Linked DNA regions of Homo sapiens: region 1 is linked to region 2. A link means that fine-mapping ties the variant in region 2 to the expression of a gene that starts in the linked region. Tissue or cell type: whole blood. Region 2 holds a variant in brackets; the other region holds the start of a gene. All regions are shown on one strand. Distances are from middle to middle.

Region 1 (8,448 bases), 31 kb after region 2:
GCAATAGAGCTAGACCCTGTCTGTTAAAAAAAAAACAAAACAAAACCCAAAAAACCTAAAAATAGAAGTACCCTATGATCCAGCAGTCCTACTGCTAGGAATATACTCAAAAGAAAGGAAATCAGTATATTGAAGAGATACCTGCACTCCCGTGTTTGCTGCAGCACTATTCACAATAGCCAAGATTTGGAAGCAACTGGAGTGTACACTAACAGACGAATGGATAAAGAAAATGTAGTGCAGGCTGGGCGTGGTGGCTCACGCCTGTAATCCCAGTACTTTGGGAGGCCGAGGCAGGTGGATCACGAGGTCAGGAGCTTGAGACCAGCCTGGCCAAGATGGTGAAACCCCGTCTCTACTAAAAATACAAAAATTAGCTGGGCATGGTGGCATGAACCTGTAATCCCAGCTACTCGGGAGGCTGAGGCAGGAGAATCGCTTGAACCCAGGAGGCGGAGGTTGCAGTGAGCTGAGATTGCGCCACTGCACCACTCCAGCCTGGGCGACAGAGCTAGACTCTGTCTCAAAAAAAAAAAAAAAAAAGAAAGAAAATGTGGTACATACATGCAATGAAGGACTATTTGGCCACAAAAAAGAATGAGATCCTGTCATTTGCAACAACATGGATGGAACTGGAGGACACTATGTTAAGTGAAATAAGCCAGGCACAGAAAAACAAACTTTTCATGTTCTCTCTCATTTATGGGAGCTAAAAATTAAAACAATTGAACTCATGGAGATAGAGAGTAAAATGATGGTTACCAGAGGCTAGGAAGGGTAGTGGAGAGGGGCAGAAATGGTTAATGGGTACAAAAATATAGTTAGACAGAATGAATAAAATCTAGTATTTGATAGCACAATAGGGTGACTACAGGCAACAATAACTTATTGTACACATGTAATCCCAGCACTCTGGGAGGCCGAGGCGGGTGGATCACAAGGTCAGGAGTTCGATACCAGCCTGACCAACATGGTGAAACCCTGTCTCTACTAAAAATACAAAAGTTAGCCGGCCATGGTGGTGCGTGCCTGTAATCCCAGCTACTCAGGAGGCTGAGGCAGGAGAATCGCTTGAACCCAGGAGGCAGAGGTTGCAGTGAGCTGAGATCGCACCATTGCACTCCAGCCTGGGTAACAGAGCGAGACTCCATCTCAAAAAAAAAAAATTACTAAAAGATTATAACTGGAATGTTTGCAACACAAAAATATAATAAATGTCTAAGGTGATGGATATCCCATTTGCCCTGATGTGATTGTTACACATTGCATGCCTCTATCAAAATATCTCATATACCCCATAAATATGTCTATTATGTACCATAAAAATTAAAAATAAAAAAATTTTTAAATAAAAAGAAATTTTAGATAGAAAACAAAACCTAATCTTGGCCAAAGGAACCTCAGAAAAACCTTAAAAACTGAATTCCAGGCCAAGATGGGAAGAGAGGTTAGACACACCTCTATACCTTCTCCCTTTTAAAGTTTAGGCACAACTGACCAACATTAAGGTTAAACTAGAGATCATAAGACTGACAAAACACTCTGTGGCAATAAGATACCATATTATAAACAAGACCTAGGCTGGGCGCAGTGGCTCACGCCTGTAATCCCAGCACTTTGGGAGGCTGAGGCAGGCGGATCACGAGGTCAGGAGCTCGAGACCAGCTTGGCCAATATGGTGAAACCCCATCTCTACTAAAAATACAAAAATTAGCTGGCCGAGATGGCGCGTGCCTGTAGTCCCAGCTACTTGGGAGGCTGAGGCAGAAGAATCGCTTGAACTGGGGAGGTGGAGGTTGCAGTGAGCTGAGATCACGTCACTACACTCCAGCCTGGGTGACAGAGCGAGACTCCGTCTCAAAAAAAAAAATAAATACAAATAAACAAGACCTGCGAGCCAGGCGCGGTGGCTCACGCCTGTAATCCCAGCACTTTGGGAGGCCGAGGCAGGTGGATCATGAGGTCAGGAGTTCAAGACCAGCCTGACCAACATGATGAAACCCCGTCTCTACTAAAAATACAAACATTAGCCGGGCATGGTGTTGCATGCCTGAAATCCCAGCTACTTGGGAGGCTGAGGCAGGAGAATCGCTTGAACCTAGGAGGTGGAAGTTGCAGTGAACCGAGATGGGGCCTCTGCACTCCAGCCTGGGCGACAGAGCAAGACTCTGTCTCAAAACAAAACAAAACAAAACAAAACAAAAAAACTATGGCCATGCAAGGCAAGGATTAAGTCATGCCCTACAAACCATAAAATGTCGTTAAATGGTTTTTTATGTGCAATGGTATAATGTGCCTTACTTTCCAACCTGACTGGTGTAGAATCACATGACAGATAGCAGACTCCCTTTTCTTAAGCATTCCTTTCTACTGACTTCAAGTCTTTAGACAAAGCTTAACACTGTTTTTTGTTTGTTTGTTTGTTTGTTTTTGAGACAAGGTCTTACTCTGTCACCCAGGCTGGAGTGCAGTGGCACGATCTCGGCTCACTGCAACCTCTGCCTCTCAGGTTCAAGTGATTCTCCCACCTCAGCCTCCCTAGTAGCTGGGGTTACAGGCATCCACCACCGTGCTTGGCTAAGTTTTGTATTTTTAGTAGACACAGGTTTTCACAATATTGGCCAGGCTGGTCTTGAACTCCCGACCTCAGGTGGTCCACCCACCTTGGCCTCCCAAAGTGCTGGGATTACAGTCTTGAGCCACTGCACCTGGCCTGTGTTTTTATTTGTTTTTGAGACAGGGTCTCGCTCACCCAGGCATGAGTGCTGTGGCATGATCATGGCTCAATGCAGCCTCTGAGGCTCAAGAGATCCTCCCACCACAGCCTCTCAAGTGGCCTGGGACTACAGGCAGATACCATCATACACAGCTAATTAACACGGTTTGTAGAGATGAGGGCTTACTCTGGTGCCCACGCTGGTCTCAAATTCCTGGACTCAAGCAATCCTCTCACCTAGGCCTCCCAAGATGCTGGGATTATAGGCAGGAGCCACCTCGCCTGACTAAAGCTTAAATCTTTCAACAGATTGCCGATCAGAAAATCTTTGAATCCACCTATGATCTGTAAGCCTCTCCTTCAAGACATCCCACTTCCTTAGCCTGAACCAATGTATATCTTCCATATATTGACTTATTTTACCTGCAATTCCCAACTCCCTAAAATGTATAAAACAAAGAGTAATGCCACCGCTTCAGATGCTCTTTGTTAGGACCTCTTGGGACTATTCCCTGGGCCATGGTCACTCATATTGGTTCAGAATAAATCTCTTTAAAACCTTTTACAGAATTTGTTTTTTTTCCATTAACAAAATCATCTCATTTTGAGGCAACTGAAGCCTAAAATCGTTAGAGAAGCGCTTTGCCCAAGGATTCACACAATAGTGTTGCAAATGGAGATTTAGCACTAAGTCAGCTGTGTTGTTTTCACTATACTGGGTGCCTACATAGCAACTAGACCATGGAAAGTCTTCGCATATCTACGAGGATGCAATTTTTGATAGGAGTTGGTCATAGTCAAGAGTGGCTAGATGGCCACTTCTAAATCTTGTTGGTGCTGGATTTCCTAAACTCTGTGGGATTACTTCTTTTTTTGACCTCAAAACAGAAAAATTTCCTCTGTAACACGATTCACTAACACATGAGGTAATCACACTGCTTTGAGGTCTGTAAGGATCAAGTTGGAACCGTCATCCCCTTCCCTGGCAGTCCCTAAAATCCTTCGAGATGACGTCACCCAACGAGTTCAAGAGGGCGGTGCGTTCCTAACCACACCTTCTGCAACCCAAGTGCCGCCCCTCTGACTTTCTCCTTTTTCCTTTTTTCCGGAACGCCGGAACGTAAGACGTGGGTCACGCAACAAGAGCAACTAGTCCCGGAAGCAAAAAGCAAAGAGGCGGAGAAGAAGACGGGAAGCAGAGCCCGCGTCCGGGTCGGCCGGCAGGGGGCGGGGCCGGGCATGGTAACGGCTCGGAAGCCTAGGAGGCTGGGCCGGAGGGAGGCGGAGGAACCGGTGTTCGCCGCCGCCGCTGCTTCAGCTTATTCCTTGTGGCCTCTGCGGGTCCTGCCTCAGCCATGATGATCCACGGCTTCCAGAGCAGCCACCGGGATTTCTGCTTCGGGCCCTGGAAGCTGACGGCGTCCAAGACCCACATCATGAAGTCGGCGGATGTGGAGAAGTGAGGCTTCGGGGCACGGGGTCTGGGCGCTGGCCGGTTGCTGGCCCAGGGCGGGAGGCAGGGCGAACTCTGTGCAGCCCCTCCCCTTTTCCCTGAGGCGGAGGTTCGGTCCCTCCGGACCGGACCTTTGATTGACAACTTCGATAAATAATCCAGTCACACTTCCGGGCCCTTTGGTTGGGGATCGCCAGGCGCTGCTTTCGTCAACTGTCAATCCGCCTGGGTTTGAGTAGAGTGTGACTGTTCTGGTGGACTTTCCCCTCACCAAACGTCTCCTCCTGCCTCAGCCTGCACCACCTTTCTTTCTGGGTGGCTGTTGCCTGTTTTCTTAGGGGTTAATGACGGGGATGATTTATAAGTTTGGTTTCTGTCACGTCAGGTGCTGTGCCCGGCGCTTGAGATAGGAAATGTAAAAGACAACGTGCGCCTCAATTCACAGTCTCGTGAGAGAGACAGACAATTATATTACAGCGTGAATAAATGTAATGAAGATGTATACACGGAGTGATGTGAGGTCTTTTAGGGGCTCGAACCATCTGGGAAATTGGGATGCCTGAACTGAATCTTTATAAAACCGTTGCGGGGGGCGGTGGATAGGTACATGCCATCAGGTCAGGCAGAGTGAGTTGTGATGCGTTTTTGATGCCTGGGCTGAATCTTGACAAAATTTAGGGGAATCAGGGGACGCATGTAAAGCTGGGGGCTCAGGGAGAGTGAAAGCTGTGATGTGTTTAAAGAGCTGTGTCCGTGTGATTGGAGCGTGAGGTACCATAGGGGGTGTTGTGAGAGATGAGAGGTAGGCCCCAGGGGAATCAAGATACTGAGGGAATTTTTATGCCTGGCTAAGGAGTTTTCAATTTTATCTGACAACCACTGGGTGTAATTTTATCCAAAGGAGCTGCATTATCAGATGTACGCTCTGAAAGATTTCTCTGGAGGCCATGTTGAGGCTGGATTGCAGGTCCGCAGGGATGGGAAGGAGACCAGTTAGTAAGAGAAAAGATAGGTTTTAGAAGATTAAGTCCCTGGGATGGCCAGCTGATGGGAGGAGAAATAAAAAAGGAAGAGTCTATGCTGATGACAAGATCTCTGGCTTGGATTTTTGCATGTATCGTATGCCTTTGAACAAGATGAGAAGCACAGGAGGAGGAGAAGCAGATGGGGGCAGGGTGTTGGTTAGAGGATGAGTTTAGTTTATTGAAATGTGAGGTGGGTATAGGTCATAAAGTGAAGATGTGTAGTAGGCATTTAGATATATTTATCTTGGAGCTCAAAAAAGATAACGTCTGTGGGTTTAAGTTTGGGAATTATCTGCTTATATTTGGTACCTGGAGCTTTGGGAATGAATTAAGGTATCTAGAAGTCATCCAGAGGAAAAGGTCATAAAATAGAACCCTAAGTGAGTACTTGCATTTTAAGATTTGAGCAGAGGGAGTGACCAGGGAAGAGAGGAAAGTAATGAAACGATGTTTGCTTCCTAATTCAAGAAAATAAGTGGTAATATTCTAGTAGACTCACTGAAAAAAATTAGGAAAATACAGAAAAGAAAGGAAAAAAATTTCCCTTCATCCCACCAGAAATTGAATTACTTTTTTGAGTTTTTCCTCTCTATATCTTTCTTTTCTTTTTTTTTTATAACTTTTTTTTTTTTTTTGTATTTTTAGTAGAGACGGAGTTTCTGCATTTTGCTCAGGCTGGTCTCGAACTCCTGACCTCAGGTGATCTGTCCGCCTTGGCCCCCCAAAGTGCCGGGATTACAGGCATGAGCCACTGCGCCCAGCCTTGTATAACTTTTATTTATTTTTTATTTTGTTTTTTTGAGACAGAGACTCACTCTGTCGCCCAGGCTGGAGTGCAGTGGCACAGTCTCAGCTCACTGCAGCCTCCGCCTTCCAGGTTCAAGTGATTCTCCTGCCTTAGACTCCCTGGTAGCTGAGACTACAGGCGCGTGCCACCACGCCTGGCTAATTTTTGTATTTTTATTTATTTATTTATTTTTAATTTTCTTTTCTTTTCTTTTTTTCTTATTCTTTCTTTCTATTTTTATTTTGAGATGGAGTTTCACTTGTTGCCCAGGCTGGAGTGCAATGGCGCCATCTCGGCTCACTGTAACCTCCACCTCCTGGGTTCAAGCGATTCTCCTGCCCAGCCTCCCAAGTAGCTGGGATTACAGGCATGCATCACCACGCCCAGCTAATTTTGTATTTTTAGTAGAGATGGGGTTTCACCATGTTGGTCAGGCTGGTCTTGAGCTCCTGACCTCAGATGATCCACCTGCCCTCGGCCTCCCAAAGTGCTGGGATTACAGGCATAAGCCACCGCACCCGGCCTCCTCTCCATATAACTTTCTGTGACAAATTGCCGATTGGTGCAAAAGTAATTGCGGTTTTTAATTGCAAAACCGCAATTACTTTTGCACCAACATAATACAATATATAATTATATTATATATAAAGCAGTCAGCTTCAAACTGGGGCCCCCATGTAATTTACTTACAGATTCTCTAAGCGATGGCTGTATACATGGAGAGTTTTAAGGGAATAAAATTCCATATCTACGATCTCCTTATGTATTATTTTAAAAACAAATTTGCCTGAGGCCGGGTGCGGTGACTCACTCCTGTAATCCCAGCACTTTGGGAGGCTGAGGCAGGCGGATCACCTGAGGTCAGGAGTTCAAGACCTGCCTGGACAACATGGTGTAACCCCGCCTCTACTAGAAATACAAAAAAAATTATCTGGGGGTGGTGGTGCAGGCCTGTAATCCCAGCTACTCTGAAGGCTGAGGCACGAGAATCACTTGAACTTGGGAGGTAGAGGTTGCAGTACGCTGAGATCGTGCCACTGTGCTCCAGCCTGGATGACAGAGTAAGACTCCGTCCCCCACCCTCCGCCAAAAAAAAAAAAATGCCTTTTTTTATATGACAAAAGGAAGACTTACCCTCACCAATCCCAAATTTTTCTGTGATGCATTATCATAGATTGTAAAAACCACTAAGGTGCTAAATAAATTGGTTGGGTAAAATATTGGATTAAAGAAGCTCTTCTAATGAATATTTAAGGCACCTTAAAACCACAGGAGCTTCCTGTCTTCTCTCCTTGTAACTAGTTATACCTGTTTTTAAGTGGGAAGCTTGATGATGTTAGAAATAGGGCATTTTCAGGCCGGGCGCGGTGACTCACGCCTGTAATCCCAGCATTTTGGGAGACCGAGGCAGGTGGATCACCTGAGGTCAGGAGTTCGAGACCAGCCTGGCCAACATGGTGAAACCCTGTTTCTACTAAAAATACAAAAATTAGCCGGGCATGGTGGCACGTGCCTGTAATCCCAGCTCCTAGGAAGGCTGAAACAGGAGGATTGCTTGAATCTGGGAGGCGGAAGTTGCAGTGAGCCAAGATCGTGCCATTGCACTCCAACCTGGGCAACAGAGCGAGACTCCGTCTCAAAAAAAAAAGAGGGCATTTTGGCCTATGTTTAAGAAACTCTATATTTAGAACACTGAAGGACTGTAAATTAGTAACAGTGATTCTTTTACATATATGAGTGGAATATTTTATAGGACTGCCACATTTTTCCAGATATATTGGTTAGAATCCACAGACTCACATATTATTTCACATTTGGTATGCATTATTCAAGTTAAAACTTATTTTATGGAATCTTATGGAATATATATTCCAATTACAGTTTATTGTATCTAATCTTTTAAGTATTTAATATTTTCTATCTCCTAATAACAAAGAATAAATTTTACTTAAAATTATGATGAAAGTTAACATTGTTAGTCCTGAAGACCATTGTTAACATTGTGCAGTCCTGAAGACCTGCACCTCAAAGTTAGATCACTGATATGTGCACACAGAAATACACGTTTAGATGTAATAAATATACAATGTGTGTCCAGTTTTTTTCTTACTATTTTATCATAAGCATTTTTTCATATTATTATAGTCTCTCTTTAAACATTTGTAATGGTTCCATAATATTTCATCATATGGATATACTTTGGTTTGCATAATCATTTGTTGCTTTATAATGAAACATTCAGAGTATTTCTTTTTCATGATTATAAGTAAAGCCATTATAAGTATTAATGTGTATAATATTTTTCTGTACTTGGAATTATTCTTTAGTACAGGTATTCTAAAACTGATACTTTGGGTCATAAGTGTGTAAATTATGTTAAATTCCTGTGATTTTTTTTTTTTTTTGCTTGATTGTTGCCCCAGGGTGAAATGTAAATTGACACAATCCTTCTGAAAGTCTGTGTAGG
Region 2 (8,448 bases):
ATACAAGAGCTGATCTGAAGGGACAATTTGAACATCAAAAAGAATAAGAAGCCAGGCACAGTGGTTCATGCCTGTAATCCCAGTACTTTGGAAGGCTGAAGTAGAAGAATTGAGGCCAGGAGTTCAAGAGCAGCCTGGGCAATATAGTGAGACCACATCTCTAAAAAAAAGAAGAGTTGCAATGGATTGGAACATACCTGCTAAAGCTTGAATGTTTGAATCCTCCAAAACTCATGTTGAAACTTAATTCCTAATGTAACAGTATTAAGAGGTGAGGCCTTTAAGGGGTGATTGTGCCATAAGGACTCTGCCCGCATGAATGGATTAACTCATTAATGGATTAATGGATTAATAGATTAATAGGTTATCATGGGAGTGGGTTAGTTATAACAAAAATGGGTCTGTTAAAGAAGCCAGGTCTGCAATGGCTCTCTCTCATGCACCCTCCTCATCATGTGATGCCCTGTGCCACCTCAGTACTCTGCAGAGAGCCCCCGCCAGCAAGAATGCCTTCAGCAAGATGCAGCCTCTTGGCCTTGGATGTCCCAGCCTCCATAACTGTAAGAAATCAATTCACTATCTTTATAAGTTACCCAGGCTCAGGTATTAAGTTATAGTAACAGAAAACTGACTAAGATAATATCCACATAGAAAAATCTTTGAGTTTATAGTTGAAAAAATTGGTCACCATTGGTGATTGCTAGGCAACCAATTCATTCCTCTGAAAAATTAGTAAATAAAAGGAAGGAATCAAACATTTATTCCACTTTTCCTATACGAATTGCATTCAGTGTGACCAAAGAGTAGTTAGGGAAAGTTCTTTTTAATAGAAAAATTCCAACAAATAAATGCACAAAGAAGAACAGAATTTTAAAATCACCATTTTGCAACCCTTAATGAAATAACTATTGCAGGCAATGGTGATCAATGTATACTAAAACCATTAAGTGAATAGTTGATGGAGAACCGATCAATCTTAGTATCACACAAGAACGGAATGTAATGGGAAGTATTCAGCACCATCTAGGAAGTATTCTTAAATAAATCTTGCAATGGTGGATGAATGTTGAGCAGAAAAGAAAGTCAAAAAATGTCTATGTTAAACTTTAAGCAACAATTCCTGACTTAGTTGACCACTAGCTAAGAGAATGACCCAATGGAATAGGAGACAGATTGAGAAATGTTACCATCACTTTCCTGCCCACCTTATGATTTCACCCTGAGCAGGCTTTCTCTCCACTATTGTCAGTTTGCTACTGTGCTAATTTTGAGTTGTCTTTTAGCCATTGACGTTGACCAGCAATGGAATCTAAGTCCAGGATACATGGAAAGTATACTGTCATGAAAAACGGAGTTTTTGAAAATGAGTACACTGCAAGCTGGGGAAAATCCTTTTTTTTTTTTTCTGTAAAAACTGAACCACCTGAGAAGGCATAGGTGTACTTATTTTTCTACACACTTAATTTGTTCAGTTTTAGAACTCAAGATCCTTTATTATTGTTAGTGTATTAAATTCATACCTTTCTGTTCTTACTGCCATTGCCTTTTTTTTTAAAATCACGTCATGCATTTGAAGGAGGGATTGTGGTGTAAACATCAGTCCATGGGTTGAGTCCAAAGACCTGGATTCTGATCCTGACTGTGCCCAGGCTTGTTGATGGTTGTGACCCCACAGTGAGATGCGGATTAAGGGTCAGATACTCCAAGGGAAGGGGCTGAAGAGACCAAACTTCCTGTGTGGACGGTCACGGAGTCCTCTGAGAGGGCTAAAGAAACACCCCCAGGCTGGTGCAGGAAGCCTGGGAGATCTTCCCTTTGGACCAGTGGATGGAGTCAGAGATCAGGATGGTTGCAGAGGAAAAGCTTCCCAGGGTGGAGGGGCAGGGGCTGGGAGAATGACCCCAAGGTCATGTAAAGAGAGGTGATGCTGGCTAAACAACTAAGTTTTGAGAGGCAGCGAGGCTCCTTCTAACCCTGGTATCACGGTCAATTTAATTTTATCTGTGCCTTGTGCTTCCTCTAATGAGGAAAGAGAGGAACGAAGGCTGTGCCCAGTTAGCTGTGTCAGTCAAGACAACCAGGAGTAGATTTTAGTCACCTTAAGGTCGAAAACTATGTTTGTTATTTGGAGCTTCTTTTCTTTAGTTCGCTTTATTTTCCCCTGGTTTATTTGAGAATTTTCTTTTGAAACTACCCATGAGACTCATTTCTACTAGGAACGTTAGAAAAGTAAAAAGACATTCTTTTCCTCTCCCCTTAGGCCGGGGAGGCAGAGGGCCCCTAGTGGCCAATGGTGGAACTGCAGCAGCCCAGTCCCAAGACCAGGTGGACCTGGCTGCTGGTTGGTGAACAAGAGCCTCTCAGAGAGCGAAAGGGCCTCCACCGACTCTGACAGCCTCGGTGAGGGGTGGGAAGGGGTGGGAAGGGGTGGGGAAGGACGGGGAGGGGTGGGGAGGGACGGGGAGGGGTGGGGAGGGACGGGGAGGGGTGGGGAGGGGAGGGGCGGGGAAGGGTGGGGGGGTGGGGGGTTTGGGGGAGAGGAAGGGACAGGAAGAAGTGGGAGGAGAAGAGGGAAGTGGGGAGAGAAAAGGACAGAAAAGAGAAGAAAAAAGGAGAAATGCCAATAGAGGCTTCTAAAACATTCAATATTTACTTCTAGCAAATAAATTTACTTCTGGCAAATAAATACTTTTAATAATCTCCAGTACAATGCAGTAATTTCTTTACGCAGAAAAATTAGAATCATTGAAGTATTTTGATATAAACAATAGTATTTTTACAGAAAAATAATACAGGATTACTGAAAAAATTGCTCCAATTTCCGTTTGAATGGTGGCCGTATGTCACACATAAGGTATAGTTTTAACAGAATTTAAAATGTTCCATCCCAGATGGTAATGCTTTTCCATATAATTGCGCTAACAACAAAAAATTAACTATTATCAGTGGGGTGGATGGGTAATGAGGCGTACATTTAAGGTTGAATGAGTAATATTTTCTCTCCTCAGTCCTGTCTGGGTGTCTTGCTGATAACGTTATTTGGAGATAAGATAAAAAGTTTAAATTTAAGCTCTCTTTGGAAAAGGGAATCCACATCAAACAGCTCTCCTGATCCCTGCCCTTTATTCCTCCCTGTTGATAAACCCTACAGTGAAGTGAACCTGTGACTCCCAAACCCTATTACCTATTAGAACTACACGTAGAAGCCGGGTGCGGTGGCTCTCGCCTGTAATCCCAGCACTTTGGAATGCCGAGGCGGGCGGATCACCTGAGCTCAGGAGTTGAAGACCAGCCTGACAATATGGCGAAACTCCGTCCCTACTAAAAATACAAAATTAGCGGGGCATGGTGGCATGCGCCTGTAGTCCCAGCTACTTGGGAGGCTGAGGCAGGAGAATCACTTGAACCTGGGAGGCGGAGGTTGCAGTGAGCCGAGATTGTGCCATTGCACTCCAGCCTGGGCAACAAGAGAGACTCAAAAAATAAAAATAAAAAAACATGTAGAGGCCGGGCGCAGTGGCTCACGCCTGTAATCCCAGCACTTTGCGAGTGCGAGGCCACGACGGGTGGATCACTTGAGGTCAGGAGTTCGAGACCAGCCTGGCCAACATGGTGAAAACCTGTCTCTACTAAAGATACAAAAACTAGTTGGGTGTGGTGGTGGGAGCCTATAATCCTAGCTACTCAGAAGGCTGAGGCAAGAGAATTGCTTGAAACTGGGAGGCTAGAGGTTGCAGTGAGCCGAGATCAAACCACTGCACGTTAGCCTGGGCGACAGAGCGAGACTCAATCTCAAAAAAACCATACCAAACAAAACAACTACATGTAGAGCTTTGAAACTATCCATATTCCTGGTTCTCTTCCAACACCTCTAGATGGATGTTTCCGGAGGTGAATTGTCCTCAGATTAGCATTTGGAACTAGGACGCTGCACTCTCCTACACCGTTAATAAAAGTATATATTTGCATGAACATGACAATTGGCAATATCTATTAAATTACAACAAATATGTACCCTTCGACCCAGAAATTCTAATCCTGGGACTCTATCCCATAGAAATAAAAGCACCAGGGCCGGGCGCGGTGGCTCATGCCTGTAATCCCAGCACTTTGGGAGGCCGAGGCGGGTGGATCACGAGGTCAGGAGATCGAGACCATCCTGGCTAACACGGTGAAACCTCGTCTCTACTAAAAATACAAAAAAAATTAGCTGGGCGTGGTGGCGGGCGCCTGTAGTCCTCAGGAGGCTGAGGCAGGAGAATGGCGCGAACCTGGGAGGCGGAGCTTGCAGTGAGCCGAGATTGCGCCACTGCACTCCAGCCTGGGCTACAGAGCGAGACCCCGTCTCAAAAAACAAAAACAACCAAAAAAATAATAATAAAAA[T/TA]AAAAAAAAAAGAAAGAAAAGCACCAGTACAGAAAAATATATGAGACCTGGCACGGTGGCTCACACCTGTAATCCCAGCACTTTGGGAGGCCAAGGCAGGTGGGTCACTTGAGATCAGGAGTTCGAGACCAGCCTGGGCAACATAGTGAAACCTCATTTCTATCAAAAATACAAAAATTAGCCAGGTGTGGTAGTGCATGCCTGTGGTCCAGCTACTTGGGAGGCTGAGGTGGGAGAATGGCTTGAGCCTGGGAGGTCGAGGCTGCAGTGAGCCGTAAATGTCCATCTATAGAGGAAAGATTGAATAAACTGTAGAATAACCACACAGTAGATTGTATTATTAAACAAGAAAGAGTTGAAGTGATATCAATTGACCTGGAAGGATTTTTACAATGTATATTGTTAAGAAAGTACAGCAATAACTTAAGACATGTCTTTTGTAAGAGTATATAAGTGTATCAAACTATGTATTGTAAGAAATATAGGAAACAAATAATGGCCAATTTCTCAATACTTGTGCTATTGTATGATTGTGTGACCATGAAGAAATGTATGGGAAAATACACACTAGACTCTAATTGTTTCTGTTTATGGGGAGGTGTGGGCACAAAGAGAGGGCAAGGATGTTGTAAGGAAAAGAGTACCAAGACTATAGAAACATAATGATGTGTGTATGAAATAAAAATATGTAAATATGATATATTTACATATAATATATACAATATATAGAATATATTAAAATAATGAGACTGTGACATAGTATAATATAATAGCAATTTAAAATGTGGACTATAAATTCTACCTCATATTGTGGTAAATATGTAAAAATTAAGTGTGCAAATGGAAAGTTCTAGAAGGTGACAAAGACGAGTAAAAATTCATTTCATTTTTTATGATACTAAGAGTAAATTTCTTTTTAGATGTGTTACTTAATACGGAATCTGTAATTATGTAGAGTGTTTTGCTTTCGATTTTTGTCTGAAGAGAAAGGAAAAAAGAAACTGCTGCTCTGGACTCTAGTGGGGAAGCATTACTTCCCTTATATGGTGTAGTGAAAAGAACTCAGATGTTCCAGCCAGATGCTCTTGAGCTTGAGTTTTGATTCTATTACTTGTGATATTAAGTAAGATATTTGACCCCTCTAAGCTCTGGTTTCTCCAGCTCTAAAATAGGGATGGTAATTGTACCTACCTCATCGGTAAAGGGCTTGCTACAGCCCCTGCCATGCAGCAGACTCCTAAGAAAAGTTATCTATTTGTGGTAGATTAATATATTGTGGTGTTTATATATATAGATAGATAGATATTTGTATATATATTTATATATCTATATATCTATATATACATCTATATATCTATATGTGTGTGTGTGTGTATATATATATATATATATATATAGGTTTTACTGCTGTGGAATTATCCAAAAGAAAAAAAAAAGAGCCATCTGTATTGTGCTCTCAGTATTTTCTCTCCTTTTTTCCAAAAGGCAAGCAAGGTTTTGTACTCCTAAGTTTTGAGGGAGATTTGTATTGTTTGGTGGGAGAGGGTGAGGAGAGGAGAGGTGGGACACAGGCAAAATCAGAGACACTGAAAGTTCTTCACAATGAGAAGGGAAAACCATGGCTGGCAGAGACTTTCCTCCTGCCTCTCCTAAATCCTGGAGAGAGGGCAGGACCTCAGAGGAGGAATGGAAACTCCCAGGAGGCTGGGCACAGGCCGCGGGGCTTCATAGGTAGGAGTTGTGGGCCTCTCAGAGGTGAACATGTAGGCCGAGAGCAGAAAGGCCTCCTCGAGCATTTTTCTCCCCGAAAATCTAGATTCATCCCTAGAACCTTTGCATTATCCTAAGGGTAGGGGTGGACAGGGATGGTGTGAGGTATCCTTATTCTATTTGTCTGGGATTTGAGTTTGAATTTAATCTGATTTAAAGGAAATACATTAAAAGGCTGGGTGGTGCAGCTCATGCCTGTAATCCCAGCACTTTGGGAGGCCCAGGTGAAAAGATCGCTTGAATCCAGGGGTTCAAGACAAGCCTGGGCCACATAGGGAGACCTTGTCTCTACAAAAAATTAAAAAATTAGCCAGGCATAGTGGTGTATGTCTGTTGTCCCAGACACCTGGGAGGTGGGAGGATGGCTTGAGCCTGAGAGGTCAAGGCTGCAGTGAGCTGTGATCATACCACTGCACTATAGCCTAGGTGATGGAGTAAGACCCTGTCTCACTAGGAAGAAAGGAAGGAAGGAGAGGAGGAAGTAAGAAATACATAGGAATATTTTATGTGGTCGCAAATACCTGTGACATTTTAATTCTCTTTCTTATTCATTTGATTGCTGTGTGATACTGGGGGAACAGGGCTATTTAACTCTCTCAGCCTCAGCTTCCTCATCTGTTGAATGGGCAGTAATAACACACAGCTCACAAAGCTGTGACCTGTGAAGATTTAATGAGTGTGTGTCTGTAACAGTGTCTATGACTGTCTATAGCTGACCATTGGTATGGTCCCTCTTCTCATTCCCTTGGGCAGTCCTAGTTCTTGGCCTCTGCACATGATGCTTCAGCACCTGGAATAGTTGTTACCACCTCTGCTATTTGAATCCAACTTCGTCCTTGAAGTCCTAACACAAGCACTGTCCATTTTCTTCCTTTCCTGACCACTAGGCAATGTTCCTTTCTTTGAACTCCTGAAGCATTTGCCTTGCTCATTCCTTGTTCACACACCTGACATTTCTGAAGCACCTTCTGAGTGGCAGGCACTGTGACGGAAATAGACAAAGTCTTTGCCCTCATGGAGCTCACATAAGCAGATTGTATCTGTCTTTTTATTTTATTTTTTATTTATTTATGTATTTTCTTTTTTTGAGGTGGAGTCTCATTCTGTCGCCCAGGCTGGAGTGCAGTGGCACAATCTTCTCTCACTGCAACCTCTGCCTCTTGGGTTCAAGAGATTCTCCTGCCTCGGCCTCCTGAGTAGCTGGGATTACAGGTGAGGGCCACCATGCCTGGCTAATTATTATTAATTTTTTTTGTATTTTTAGTAGAGATGGAGTTTCACCATGTTGCCCAGGCTGGTCTCAACTCCTGACCTCAGGTGATCTGCCCACCTCGGCCTCCCAAAGTTCTGAGATTACAGGCGTGAGCCACTGTACCCGGCCCCATGCCTTTTTATACATAAATGTATCCTTTCCCAAATACACGAGCTGCTTCCTAAGGGGAGAAATGTCTTTTACCTCTATTATCTAGAGCAGCGCCTAGAATGCAGAAGATATGTAGTAGATGTTCTCTTGGATAAGATGAGTCTTTAATCAAAATATTCCCCCTTCTGCTTACTTACAGGCCTACAACCCCCCTTATTTACTGCAATTAACTCTTAACGTGGCTGTTCCTGGATGTTACAATCCATATCTTCTGTCTCCATCCCCAGTGCAGCACAACCAGACTCATACATGTTGGAATACACAGACTAATACAATCTTTGCAAGATTGCTGATTGAGGATTCCAGGATGAAGTTCACGTCCTGGTCCCTCATTCTTTACCTACTGTCACCTGAGGTGACCCCAGAGTTACTCTTGTATTTTTAGCACAACAAAGAGCTGAAATCACTAGGTATTTCTAGAGCTCTGTGTCAGAGGTCTAGTAATGGTGTATCTTTTCCACATCTGCAATAATTGAGTTCCCCACTCAGAAAACAGAGCTGCATGTTTGAATACTTTTAACCATTATAATAACTGATATTTGTACAGCAATTAATGGTTTATAGAAGGACTTCACAGGTATGAGCAAGCCAAGGCAAGTAATATGCAAGTAATATCATTACTGTTACTTTTACTCTTATGTTACGTAAACAACTTTTTAAAAAATTACCTGAAGTTGAACAGTCACGATGCAACAGATCAGGAAACTAACAAATCTACTGACTGCAAATCTTGTATTCTTCACATTATACCACGCGGTGGTTTTTATTGTTGTCTTTTGTTTTTTTTTTTAATATAACTTCCCCTGAAGTCAGCCTATGCTAGCCCGCAAAGATTTTATTAGTGTTTGGGGAGGAAAGAGTCTTATACACT

What was found. PIP is the estimated chance that this variant, and not a neighbour inherited with it, causes the effect.
Region 1: it holds the start of TIPRL, and the variant in region 2 is fine-mapped to the expression of TIPRL in whole blood (INTERVAL, PIP above 0.99).

What each region holds. Positions count from the first base shown.
Region 1 is chr1:168,175,007-168,183,454 of GRCh38, forward strand. It overlaps TIPRL (TOR signaling pathway regulator), which reads left to right and starts at 3,956. Exons shown (of 7, transcript NM_152902.5): 1 at 3,956-4,175. The coding sequence starts at 4,072. RefSeq lists enhancers at 3,579-4,080, 4,068-4,187.
Region 2 is chr1:168,143,701-168,152,148 of GRCh38, forward strand. No RefSeq gene overlaps it. Among named protein-coding and RNA genes, the nearest start is that of GPR161, 11 kb to the left of the region's middle. The variant T/TA (reference allele first, on the strand shown) is at 4,385.